Linked DNA regions of Homo sapiens. The protein of the gene in region 1 purifies or fractionates together with the protein of each later gene. This does not show direct contact. Each region holds a gene or a part of one and is shown in the gene's direction. Other genes may lie near its edges. The genes, in order: NXT2, NXF1 and AFG2A.

Region 1 (3,751 bases):
GGGCGGCGGAGGTTGGCAGCGAGCCAACATCATGCCACTGCACTCCAGCCTGGGCCACAGAGTGAGACTCTGTCTCTAAAAAAAAGAAGAAGAGGAGGAGGAGGAGGAGGAGGGGAGGGGAGGGGAAGAGGGAGAAGGGTTGCTATAGGGAATGGTCAGAACTAAGCAAGTTACTTAGTATTTCTTTGTAACTCAATGTTATGTTTATTGTCTAGCACTCTCATTACACTTTGAGCCTCACAAGGATTCGAAACATGCCTATTTTATTCACCACTCTATATACAGAGCCTTGCACAATCTTTGGCACATAGTGAATACTTGATAAATATTTATTGAATGAATTATGATGAGGAGGAGAGCGGAACCAAAAAAATAAAGATTCCGAGAATTCAAGATAGGTGACTGGGAGAATATAAAAGTTTGGAAGTGCGGAGGAAATAATGAGTTTAAATTTTGGACGTACAAGTTTGAGAAGCCTATAGTGCAGTCACGTTCATGTTTAGCAAAATTATTATGTGTAATTGGAGCTCAGATAAGGGGTGGGGGCTTGGGATAGGTTGTTGAGATTCATTAGCATACGAGTAGCAATTTAGATCACCCTGAAGAAGGGAGGCTTTAAAAGGGGGGATGCACCGGAAGTGACGCCAGTCAGAGGTTAACGGAAAACGGAAGCTGGCTGGCTGAGAAGAAGCTTCCGTTAGTCCTACCTTGAAGAGAAAAGAGCCAGATAAAGAGAAAGATTAAAAGTATGAGAAAATACAGAAGCCACTGGTCTCAGGGAGACAGAGAAGGATACCAAAGAAGAAGTAACTATTATGAGGGGCCACACACCAGCCACTCAAGGTAAAACTACGACATCTAATTAATTTGCCATTTAAATCAGAAGTCATTGGCGGCTTTGGGATGAGAGGTTTTTAAGGGGTGTTGGGGAGCAAAGCCACATTGCCATGACAGTTATATTGCTTGAGTTTGAATCTCAACTAGTTTGTGACCGTAGGCAGATTTTACAGTCTTAGCTGTAAAATGAAGATGATAAAATAATAGCAATTACCTCAGCATTGTTATAATAAGTGAATATATGTAAAACTGATTAGAAAAGCACCTTACATATAGTCAGCACTCGACATTTTAGTTATTGTTAGAATACCTTGCAGAATAAATAGCCCTTAAAAGATGGTGAATAGCACTGTAAACTTAATTTTTGTTGGTGTCCGTGAGACATTTTAAAATGCCAGAATGGAGAAACCAGATGAACTTTTCCTGTTCAATGTGGCTGGGTTAAAATGAAATAGTAATTTTAGGCATACTGCCAAAACGTAGTAATTCAGTGAGGATGATCCTTCCAGAACGTTCCAGAATGCTAAATTGTTCACTAGTCACGCACGCCTTTCCCCAAGCTCTGCCCACTTATCCTATAGGCTACGGAATAGTAGGTCTCCTCGCATTTCTAATTGGTCTTCAGAGGGCTTTGGCTCCGCCTCCTGGGGCAAAAAAGTCCCTGTAATTGAACACTTTCATTTTTGCTTGTCCCCAGGCTTGTCGTTAGAAAAGTAGGGGACTTTCCTGTTGAGTATCATGTTTACAAAAGCAAAGTGGCTTTTAAATTTTAAACTAAGTATCAAACAAGTAGATAAGGTGGATGGGAGGGATCTTCAGGAACTGAAGGGAAGTGGAACTTAAGGTTGGAACATCGGTGTGCTTTTAACGACGGACCGAGCTACTTCCGGGAGAGAATGGGAGGGTGGAAAATTTTGTGCGTTTGGCGGGTTTCGCTCTCTTCATAAGTATTGATCATTCCGCAGCCCTGCGGACCGGACACGTGAGGAGGTAGTGACGCCGACACTGCCAGAACACACTGCTACAAGGTCCCAGATGGCCACGTCTCTGGTGAGTGCCTGGGCCGTGGCAGGACGGCTGGGCGCCGGACTCCAGTGGCTGAGAGGAGGGATTCCGGGGCGGTCTGGCTGCTGCTCACGTGGATAGGTGACGAATCACGTCCCGGCTCTCTGCACTGCGGGGCGGGGCCCACGCTTTGCTGCCCGCCCTGCCGGCCCCACCCCCAGCCTGGTTAGCAGTCGCTTTCTGATCCCGGAAAGGACCCTGAGCTGGGAAATAGCGAGAGGCGGGGATGTTGGGGTTTGTTGTTTATGGCTTGCAGTTTCTTTCTCTCGATTATCTTCCTCTCTAAAAATCACTTTCAGTCACCTGACAAAGAAACTGGCGATTCATTGTTCTTAATTTAGTAATAGACTGGGCCCCGTACATGAATGAGAAGGAAGGTATTCCTTAATTCTCCGGCACGAACGCCAACAGCGTTGCTTTCTTCGGTGTCACAGTTCTTAGGCAAACAGCAGTGAATATTTACGCAATGTGGGAAAGTTTCCTAAGTGGAGCTGCCGGTTTTTCAAGTAGTTGAACTACTTTCGTGTGTGTGTGTGTGTGTGTGTGTGTGTGTTTCCCATTCATCAACTTTGGAGTTTGGCTCTAACACCTCACTTGAAAACAGAAAACAATTTCCTAGCTTATTCAGTGGCAGTTTTTGCCGCTCTCTCTCCTTTTCTAAGGTTCAGGTGGTGTCATTTTCATTGCCGTGAATGTTTGTAAAATATTGAAAGTCTAAAGTGCTTAGTTGCCAAGAAAAGATTATAAATTTATATGTGGAGACTGAAAAAGACTCAGATTCATTGAGAAGATTATGTCCTAAAGACATGCACTTAAAATTAGTGAAAAATTTTAAAATTGCAAACTTCAGAGTCCGGCCTTTAAAATGTCTGAATTTATATGAAAGAATGTGGACTGTATATAGAGCTACATAGTGGTTGAAATAAATCATCAGCTTCTGTCAGTGGTTTTGTGTTTGTGAGGGGTTGAAAAGGTTGGTAATCTATACTTCTGGAATTTTTCTTGTAGGATTTTAAAACTTATGTAGATCAGGCATGTAGAGCTGCTGAGGAGTTTGTCAATATTTACTATGAGACAATGGATAAAAGAAGACGGGTGAGTGTTATAGACTCTACTACTCTTTATAGACTACTACTCTTTATTAAATACCAGGTTGTGTCTGGAGCCAGCGTTTCATCTGACTTGCATAAGTGGTAACTGTGGATTTACTCTTTAAAAGCAAATTGCTCAGGGAAGGATTGGTATGGCATTAGTGGGAACATGGGCTCTGGAATCATATCCCAGGTTTACTTTTACCTAGTTCTTTGACCTGGAGCAAGTTGCCATTTTCCCTTAACCTCATTTTATTTTCAGGTTGGTAAGTATGAATTAATTAAAATACCGCACTTAACATTAGGCCCAGCATATTTTCTTAAATATGTTTCCTTTTCTTAGTTCCATCAATTAACCAATATGGTTAAGGTATTATTAGTGCTAATGAAGGGGTGGGTCATTACGGGGAATATTTCCTGATTCGCCCCTTTTATTTCATATATTTATAGATAATTTCTGATCATGGCTCAAAAGTATAGCTTACACCCACAAAAAGTATGCATGTAGCATGGATAATATTAAGTCCTCAACAGACCGAGATTTCATCAGCTTTTTCATTGCAACTTATCCCTGCACCATATCTTTTACGTAATTATGTCAGTATGTGGTCAAGTGAGTCTTGCCTAGGTCTCTTACCAGCATAGAACTGTGCTTTGGAGAACTACTTCTGTCCTGCAGCTGCAAAAGTTAATACCCTATCTCTAAAAACCTATTTTTTATATAAAACCCATTTATTAAGCATAGGATTTTATATATA
Region 2 (3,751 bases), on another chromosome or scaffold:
GTAATAGCCGTCTCATAGTGGTGCTATAGGAAGTAAACTGAAGTGACTTACAAAGTGCTTGGCCTGGGGCCTGGCATACAGATGCTATCAGTGGATTAGTAGTTATTACTTTTTTTTGAGATGGAGTCACACTCTATCACCAGGCTGGAGTGCAGTGGCGCAATCTTGGCTCACTGCAACCTCCGTCTCCTGGGTTCAAGTGGTTCTCCTGCTTCAGCCTCCCGAGTAGCTGGGACTACAGGTGCGCACTACCACGCCCAGCTAATTTTTGTATTTTTAGTAGAGAAGGGGTTTCGCCATGTTGGACAGGATGGTCTCGATCTCTTGACCTCGTGATCTGCCCACCTCAGCCTCCCAAAGTGCTGGGATTATACGCATGAGACACTGTGCCCGGCCGTAGTTATTACTATTGTCCTTTCTGACCTGACCCTTCACCCCACCTGTGCTTCCCTTATACCCTTATATACTTAATCATTCCTCTCTGACTTGCTAGGATTCTTTATATCAAAGACCATGATTCAAGAAGCTGTTTGTAAACATAAAGCACTAGTGACCCTAAGGTGTTGTTGCTGTTCTTATTGCAGTGGACGGAAAGTCCCGGGATTCTTTGCGAGCCTTCACCCGGACATTCATTGCTGTTCCTGCTAGCAATTCAGGGTAAGTATTCTGCTTTTCGCATTGGATACCAGTCCTAATCCATGGCCAACAGTGTGGTAATTGGAGGGTAGAGTCAGTCTTTGGGGTGATTTCAGAAAGGCAACAGGAAATCAGAGAAAGCTCACATAGTAGTTAAGAGCCAGTTAATAGCTTGGCTCTGGAATTGTACCGTCTGGGTTTTCATCCTGGCTCCACCACTTCTAGCAAGTAGGCTGCTGCCTCATCTGAAAATTCATATAACAATATTCATTTCCTAAGTTTGTTGTGAGGATGAATTAAAAGAGCTAAAGTCCATGCGTTGGGAGAACCCTAGTGTGTTTAGTAGATAATCCTTCCAAACATTGATTCCATGGGAGGGGATAAATGATAAAAGGTAACAATAGCTAAGAGTGGGAGGGGGACCTTGTGGATATTGAAAGAATCAGAGAATAGGAATGATGTTGGGAGGATGATGTTATCTCTGTCTAGCTTTTTAAGTGCTCTTTGTCCTCAAGGCTATGTATTGTAAATGATGAGCTATTTGTGCGGAATGCCAGTTCTGAAGAGATCCAAAGAGCCTTCGCTATGCCTGCACCCACGCCTTCCTCCAGCCCGGTGCCCACCCTCTCTCCAGAGCAGCAGGAAATGTTGCAAGCATTCTCTACCCAGTCTGGCATGAACCTCGAGTGGTCCCAGAAGTGAGTGCGGGGCATGTGTAGGATGGGGATGCACTGAAGTAGGGCTAGTAGTAAATAATGAGGGCTCCTGACAGTTTTTTTGTTTTTTTTTTGGAGACAAGTTCTTGCGCTGTCATCCAGGCTGGAGTATAGTGGTGATCATAACTCACTGTAGCCTCTAATTCCTGGGCACAAGCTGTCCTCCCACCTCAGCCTCCAGAGTAGCTGGGCCTATAGGCATGTGCCACCTTATTTTATTTTATTATTTTTTTTTTTTGGAGGTGGAGTCTTGCTATGTTGCCCAGGCTGGAGTGCAGTGGTGCGATCTTGGCTCATTGTAACCTCTGCCTCCCGGGTTCAAGCAATTCTCCAATCTCAGCCTCCCGAGTAGCTGGGATTACAGGCACACACCACCATGCCTGGCTAATTTTTGTATTTTTTTTTTTTTTTTTTTTTTTTAGTAGAGACGGGCTTTCATCATGTTGGCCAGGCTGGTCTCGAACTCCTGACCTTGTGATCTGCCTACCTCGGCCTCCCAAAGTGCTGGGATTACAGGCATGAGGCACTGCACCCAGCCAAATTTTTATTTGCTTGTTTGTTTTGAGACAGGGTCTCACTCTGATGCCCAGGCTGGAGTACAGTGGTGTGATCACAGTTCACTGCAGCCTCAACTGCTAGGGCTCAGGTGATTCTCCCACCTCAGCCACCTGAGTAGCTGGGACTACAGGCATAGGCCACAGCACCTGGCTAATTTTTTTGTATTTCTTTGCAGAGATGGGGTTTCACCATGTTGCCCACCTAGGCCTCCCAAAGTGCTGCGGTTATAGGTGTGAGTTACTGTGCCTGGGCTCCTGAAATTTTAAAAGGCAAAACTTTTGGCTGCTTAAAAAAACCTAATAGTTGGCTGGGAGAGGTGGCTCACACCTGTAATCCCAGCACTTTGGGAGGCTGAGGCGGCCAGATCACGAGGTCAAGAGATCAAGACCATCCTGGACAACATGGTGAAATCTCGTCTCTACTAAAAATACAAAAATTAGCGGGGCTTGGCGTTCCACGCCTGTAGTCCCAACTACTCGGGAGGCTGAGGCAGGAGAATTGCTTGAACCTGGAAGGCGGAGGTTGCAGTGAGCCGAGATCACGCCACTGCACTCCAGCCTGGTGACAGAGCAAGACTCGGTCTCAAAAAAAAAAAAAAAGCAAACAGAAAAACACAAACCTGATAGTCTATAAAAAATTTGCCTGTGTATAAATTAACATAAAAAACTTTAAAGGTAAAATGGAAGTTCCTTTTCATATACTGTTCTGCAACTTAGTTTCTTTACTTACACCATGAACATCTTTCCCTACCACTGTAAAAACTATCTTGAGCTTCTTGACAGCTATTTAATATTCCTTATCTTTGAGAAGCCATTGGTAGAACATCTGGACTTTTACTAATGTCTCATTTGTATAAATAGTGCAAGGATGTATAAGAATGTACATATTTGTTGGCAAACTTGGGTGCTTTTATGGAGTGGACTTTCAGCTGGCATTTACGAGTCAGAGTTCTTACAGAGCTGCCTGTTCTTCCACTCCAGGTGCCTTCAGGACAACAACTGGGACTACACCAGATCTGCCCAGGCCTTCACTCATCTCAAGGTAAGGTCTGGAAATACAGTGGCAAAAAGACTAGGATCTCTGGGCCTCCAGGAGGTCAGGTTAGCTGAGTGGGGTTGCTGAGTGGCGAGGGTAGGCCTACCTCTACTGACCTTCATTTTTCTCCAGGCCAAGGGCGAGATCCCAGAAGTGGCATTCATGAAGTGATCGTAGTCATGCCTCAGAAGCAGTCCCCCCTGTAAATAGTCCTTGGATATTACCGTCTGGTTGTCGTCTGTCATCTCCTCCTGTCTGGCCCGAGGCCGCCCCGTGACTGTGACCGAGGGAGGGAGGGCTGCCTGATCCCTCTCCTCGCCTGCCTTCTGGAAGACTTCAGAAGATTGAGCCTCACTGGTGCCAGGAAGCCAAAGCTTACTTTGTAGAACTGACACTAAACTACCCGAAGGACTTAGGTGCTTTGTGTACTTAACCCCAGGACCTCCTTACTTTTTAATATAAAGAGTGATGTTGTATTTCGTGTTCTGCACTTTTTAATATAAAGAGTGATGTTGTATTTCGTGTTCTGCGTGCTGGATTGGTTGTCTCCTCCCAGCCCTGAGCGAGGGGGGCGGGCCCTCTAGCGGGGGCGCCCAGGGAGGGCGGAAGGCGGCTCTGCGGCAGGAAGCCCCACCCCGGAAGTCGGCTGGCCATGGCGGCGCCTTGGAGGCGATGGCCCACGGGGCTGCTAGCCGTGCTGCGGCCCCTGCTCACCTGCCGGCCCCTGCAAGGCACGACGCTGCAACGGGATGTGCTGCTCTTTGAGCATGATCGGGGCCGCTTCTTCACCATCCTCGGGCTGTTCT
Region 3 (3,751 bases), on another chromosome or scaffold:
GCATGTGTGTATGTATGTGTTAGAAGTTAATGTTTTACAAAGCAGTATTTACCCTTTCTATATTCAGTGTACCCTGCATTTCTTATTCTATTAACAAAGTGCTGAATGAGGCTGACTGAAATGATTTCATTACCCTTGTGTTTTGAAGAACATTGATTTAGGCCACTAAGGCACCAGATTCCAAATGATATTTTCATGGCTATATGTTTCTGAAAAATGCCCATCATTTCAAAATTGTATACATTATTTATTTTAAGGTTGCAGGTGGATTATTCTTTTGATTAAGTCTATATTATAACCATATACATGTAATTTTACATCACAGTTTAGTTTCTGGTGTACCTAATGCTGATTTCTGTTCCCTTCTTATCCTTTTACAGTGACAAAGATATGGAAATTAATGAAGAAGAACTGACTGGTTGTATCCTGAGAAAACTAGGTGAGACAAATATTTTAAATTGTTTTCTTAAGTTTTAAGCTGCAAGGCATCAGCAAATAAAGTGTCTTTGAGGGCTTATATATGCATAGTAGTTTTCTTCAAAATAGCTTTGAGAATATTCCCCTCAATGAATGAATATACTTTTAAGATAGGGATGTGCTACTTTTCCTGGTTAATTGGCAGTTGAGCAGTGGAAAGAATATATGACTTGTCTGTGGAAAGAGTCAGTGGTAGAATTGAGACTTTTAACCTTTGCATTCTTGCCCTTTCCAGTGACAGATGCTATCTTGGAGTGTTGGTTTGGGTGTGCCATTTTCATTTAGTTTATTATTGAATATGGAATGCCTGGCTATTTGTTGATGTGATTGATAGAATCTGAGATCTACTGAGTGTGGAGGATTTCAGAGAATCATTTCCTTCTGTCTCCAGATGGTGTTATAGGGGAATATTAGGTCCTCAATTTTTTATGACAATTATTTTATTAATACTCTGTCTTTGATTTAGTCTTTTCAGATAATAGATGAAATATATTGCTATTTAAACATTAAACTGGTAAAAAAAATTATGCTAACATGTATATTTAATATACTGTTTTCTAGATGGCAAGATTGTTTTACCAGGCAACTTTCTGTATTGTACATTCTATGGACGACCGTACAAGCTGCAAGTATTGCGAGTGAAAGGGGCAGATGGCATGATATTGGGAGGGCCTCAGAGTGACTCTGACACTGATGCCCAAAGAATGGCCTTTGAACAGTCCAGCATGGAAACCAGTAGCCTGGAGTTATCCTTACAGCTAAGCCAGTTAGATCTGGAGGATACCCAGATCCCAACATCAAGAAGTACTCCTTATAAACCAATTGATGACAGAATTACAAATAAAGCCAGTGATGTTTTGCTGGATGTTACACAGAGCCCTGGAGATGGCAGTGGACTTATGCTAGAGGAAGTCACAGGTCTTAAATGTAATTTTGAATCTGCCAGAGAAGGAAATGAGCAACTTACTGAAGAAGAGAGACTGCTAAAGTTCAGCATAGGAGCAAAGTGCAATACTGATACTTTTTATTTTATTTCTTCAACAACAAGAGTCAATTTTACAGAGATTGATAAAAATTCAAAAGAGCAAGACAACCAATTCAAAGTAACTTATGACATGATAGGAGGATTAAGTAGCCAGCTGAAAGCAATTAGAGAAATAATTGAATTGCCCCTCAAACAGCCTGAGCTTTTCAAGAGTTATGGTATGATGTCTTCAGTTTATTGCACCCAAAAATGTTAAATTCAAATTAAAAGACAGTTGACACTTATGTAATGATTGCTCATCCTCTTTTCCTGTTTTTATTTTCTGAGTAGTAGGTATGGTAGAAGATTTCAGTTGCTTTGGGAGATGCCAGTTAAATGGGCCATTTGCTATGCTTTGGTATTTTTAGGTTGTAATGTGAATTAGTGACAGCCTTGTCTCTTCTAATAGCATATTTCCACAATTACCTGTATTGGATCTAGAATAAGTATCTTGTCATGCTGGGTCATCTGTAATGACTGAAGGGATAAACCATTCAAATACATTAGGTAAAACTTCTTAGGAAATGTAACTGTGTACCCATCTCTTTGCACTGAAGCAGGTAATTACGGGAATGGCTTGACTCAGGAAACTCAGGGCTTCTGCTGCATTGTTATTGCCAAGATCCTTTGCATATATTTGCTGTGTCTGATCTCTCTGCTTTTTTCCTTTCTCATAAATCTTATATATACATACATGTATGTATATATATGTATGTGTAAAATGAACCCTTAGATTGGCATTTTGCTCATACTTATGTACCTTTTATACTAGCAAACGTATGTACTCTTCAAGATGGTTAGTTGGAAAAAAACTGGGATTGGTGGCTTGTCTACCTGTGTTGTCTGTGCTTGGTTTTTCGATCATTGATCTGTGTTGTGTGGGATGGGGCGTTGCAACAATGTGGGTGTCCAGTTTTTTTTTTTTTTAACCAACATGCTTCCTCTGTTCTGTGGTCTACAGAGAGAGAAAGTCATTGCTGGGTATCAGTGTTTGGGCTAGTTAGTACATCTTTCTGGAGGGGGAGAAAAAACTCTTGACTCTTTTTGTGACGCAAGGTAAAGTTAAATTTTATAACTCATGTTTGAACTTGTATGACAACATTTATAAGAAACCTAGTAATGGTGAATCTAGTGTTTTCTACTTTTTCTTCCAGGAATTCCTGCCCCTAGAGGAGTGTTACTTTATGGTCCTCCAGGTACTGGAAAAACAATGATCGCCAGGGCTGTTGCTAATGAAGTTGGAGCCTATGTTTCTGTAATTAATGGTCCTGAAATTATAAGCAAGTAAGTACATGATTTAATAGAGTAAACTTACTATTAAATATATTTCTAAAATGTGGTTTTTAAAAATGATTGTGTAGTATTCTGTGTGATATTTTGTACACTGAAATATTTTGCTTCTTAATAAAAATTGTTTGGAAAATTCTTTTTGAAAGTAATTTTAAGTATTATAGAAATATTGAAAATTTAGGTTAGCTTTTATAGACAAAGCTTTAAAAACAATAAGAAATGGTCTTTAAATGTATTTTATTTGTTACAGATTCTATGGTGAGACTGAAGCAAAGTTACGTCAGATATTTGCTGAAGCCACTCTACGGTACTCTTTATTTTTAAATGTTTTGGAATTAATAATCAAGGCTGTATTAGTCAAAGTGAGATACTAGCACCTTATACAAAGCATAAACAGTAGTACAAAAATTATAGTGATAGTGGTAGAAGTAGATTATAGATCTAATGAAATTCTATTTCTATCTAATCTTTAAAAGTTTGATAAATATTATTAAATTACATAAAGTAGAAGAATTAAGACATAGTGTTTGATAAGTCATGTGACCTTGTTTGAGCATAGAAATCCATGACTTTCTTTAGGTGCTTAGGTGTTTCTAATATGCTTAGCTTTTCTAGTAGACTGTATTATTGTATGTAGCTCTTTATACTAGAACTTTGTTATGTTATACTTTGCTTCAAAGGGACAAATCTTTTGCCCATTAAATAATGACTCTGGCTGGGTGTGGTGGCTCATGCCTGTAATACCATCACTTTGGGAGGCCAAGGCAGGAGGATTGCTTGACCCCAGGAGTTTGAGACCAGCCTGGGCAACATAGTGGGACCCTGTCTGTTTAAAAATAAAAATAATTGGCTGGGTGCGGTGGCTCACGCCTGTAATCCCAGCACTTTGGGAGACCGAGGCAGGCAGATCACCTGAGGTCAGGAGTTTGAGACCAGCCTGGCTAACATAGTGAAACCCCG

Evidence for each region.
Region 2: the proteins of NXT2 (region 1) and NXF1 purify together in Homo sapiens (co-immunoprecipitation; 6 studies listed by BioGRID and IntAct, with this or other methods). This does not show direct contact.
Region 3: the proteins of NXT2 (region 1) and AFG2A purify together in Homo sapiens (co-immunoprecipitation; 2 studies listed by IntAct, with this or other methods). This does not show direct contact.

Annotation. Positions count from the first base shown.
Region 1 is NC_000023.11:109,535,135-109,538,885, forward strand, and holds the start of NXT2 (NTF2-related export protein 2), read left to right. Parts: upstream 1-1,709; 5' UTR 1,710-1,802; coding exon of another isoform or gene 1,803-1,872; coding exon 1,873-1,887; intron 1,888-2,070; exon of another isoform or gene 2,071-2,267; coding exon of another isoform or gene 2,268-2,279; exon of another isoform or gene 2,280-2,570; intron 2,571-2,910; coding exon 2,911-2,997; intron 2,998-3,751. UniProt on the Homo sapiens protein: Regulator of protein export for NES-containing proteins. Also plays a role in mRNA nuclear export.
Region 2 is NC_000011.10:62,791,841-62,795,591, reverse strand, and holds the end of NXF1 (nuclear RNA export factor 1), read left to right. Parts: intron 1-584; coding exon 585-657; intron 658-1,151; coding exon 1,152-1,334; intron 1,335-2,820; exon of another isoform or gene 2,821-2,890; coding exon 2,891-2,951; intron 2,952-3,077; coding exon 3,078-3,116; 3' UTR 3,117-3,462; downstream 3,463-3,751. Other genes in the region: TMEM223 (transmembrane protein 223), read left to right, coding at 3,598-3,751.
Region 3 is NC_000004.12:122,933,059-122,936,809, forward strand, and holds part of AFG2A (ATPase family gene 2 protein homolog A), read left to right. Parts: intron 1-380; coding exon 381-439; intron 440-1,038; coding exon 1,039-1,680; intron 1,681-2,655; coding exon 2,656-2,785; intron 2,786-3,041; coding exon 3,042-3,098; intron 3,099-3,751. UniProt on the Homo sapiens protein: ATP-dependent chaperone part of the 55LCC heterohexameric ATPase complex which is chromatin-associated and promotes replisome proteostasis to maintain replication fork progression and genome stability.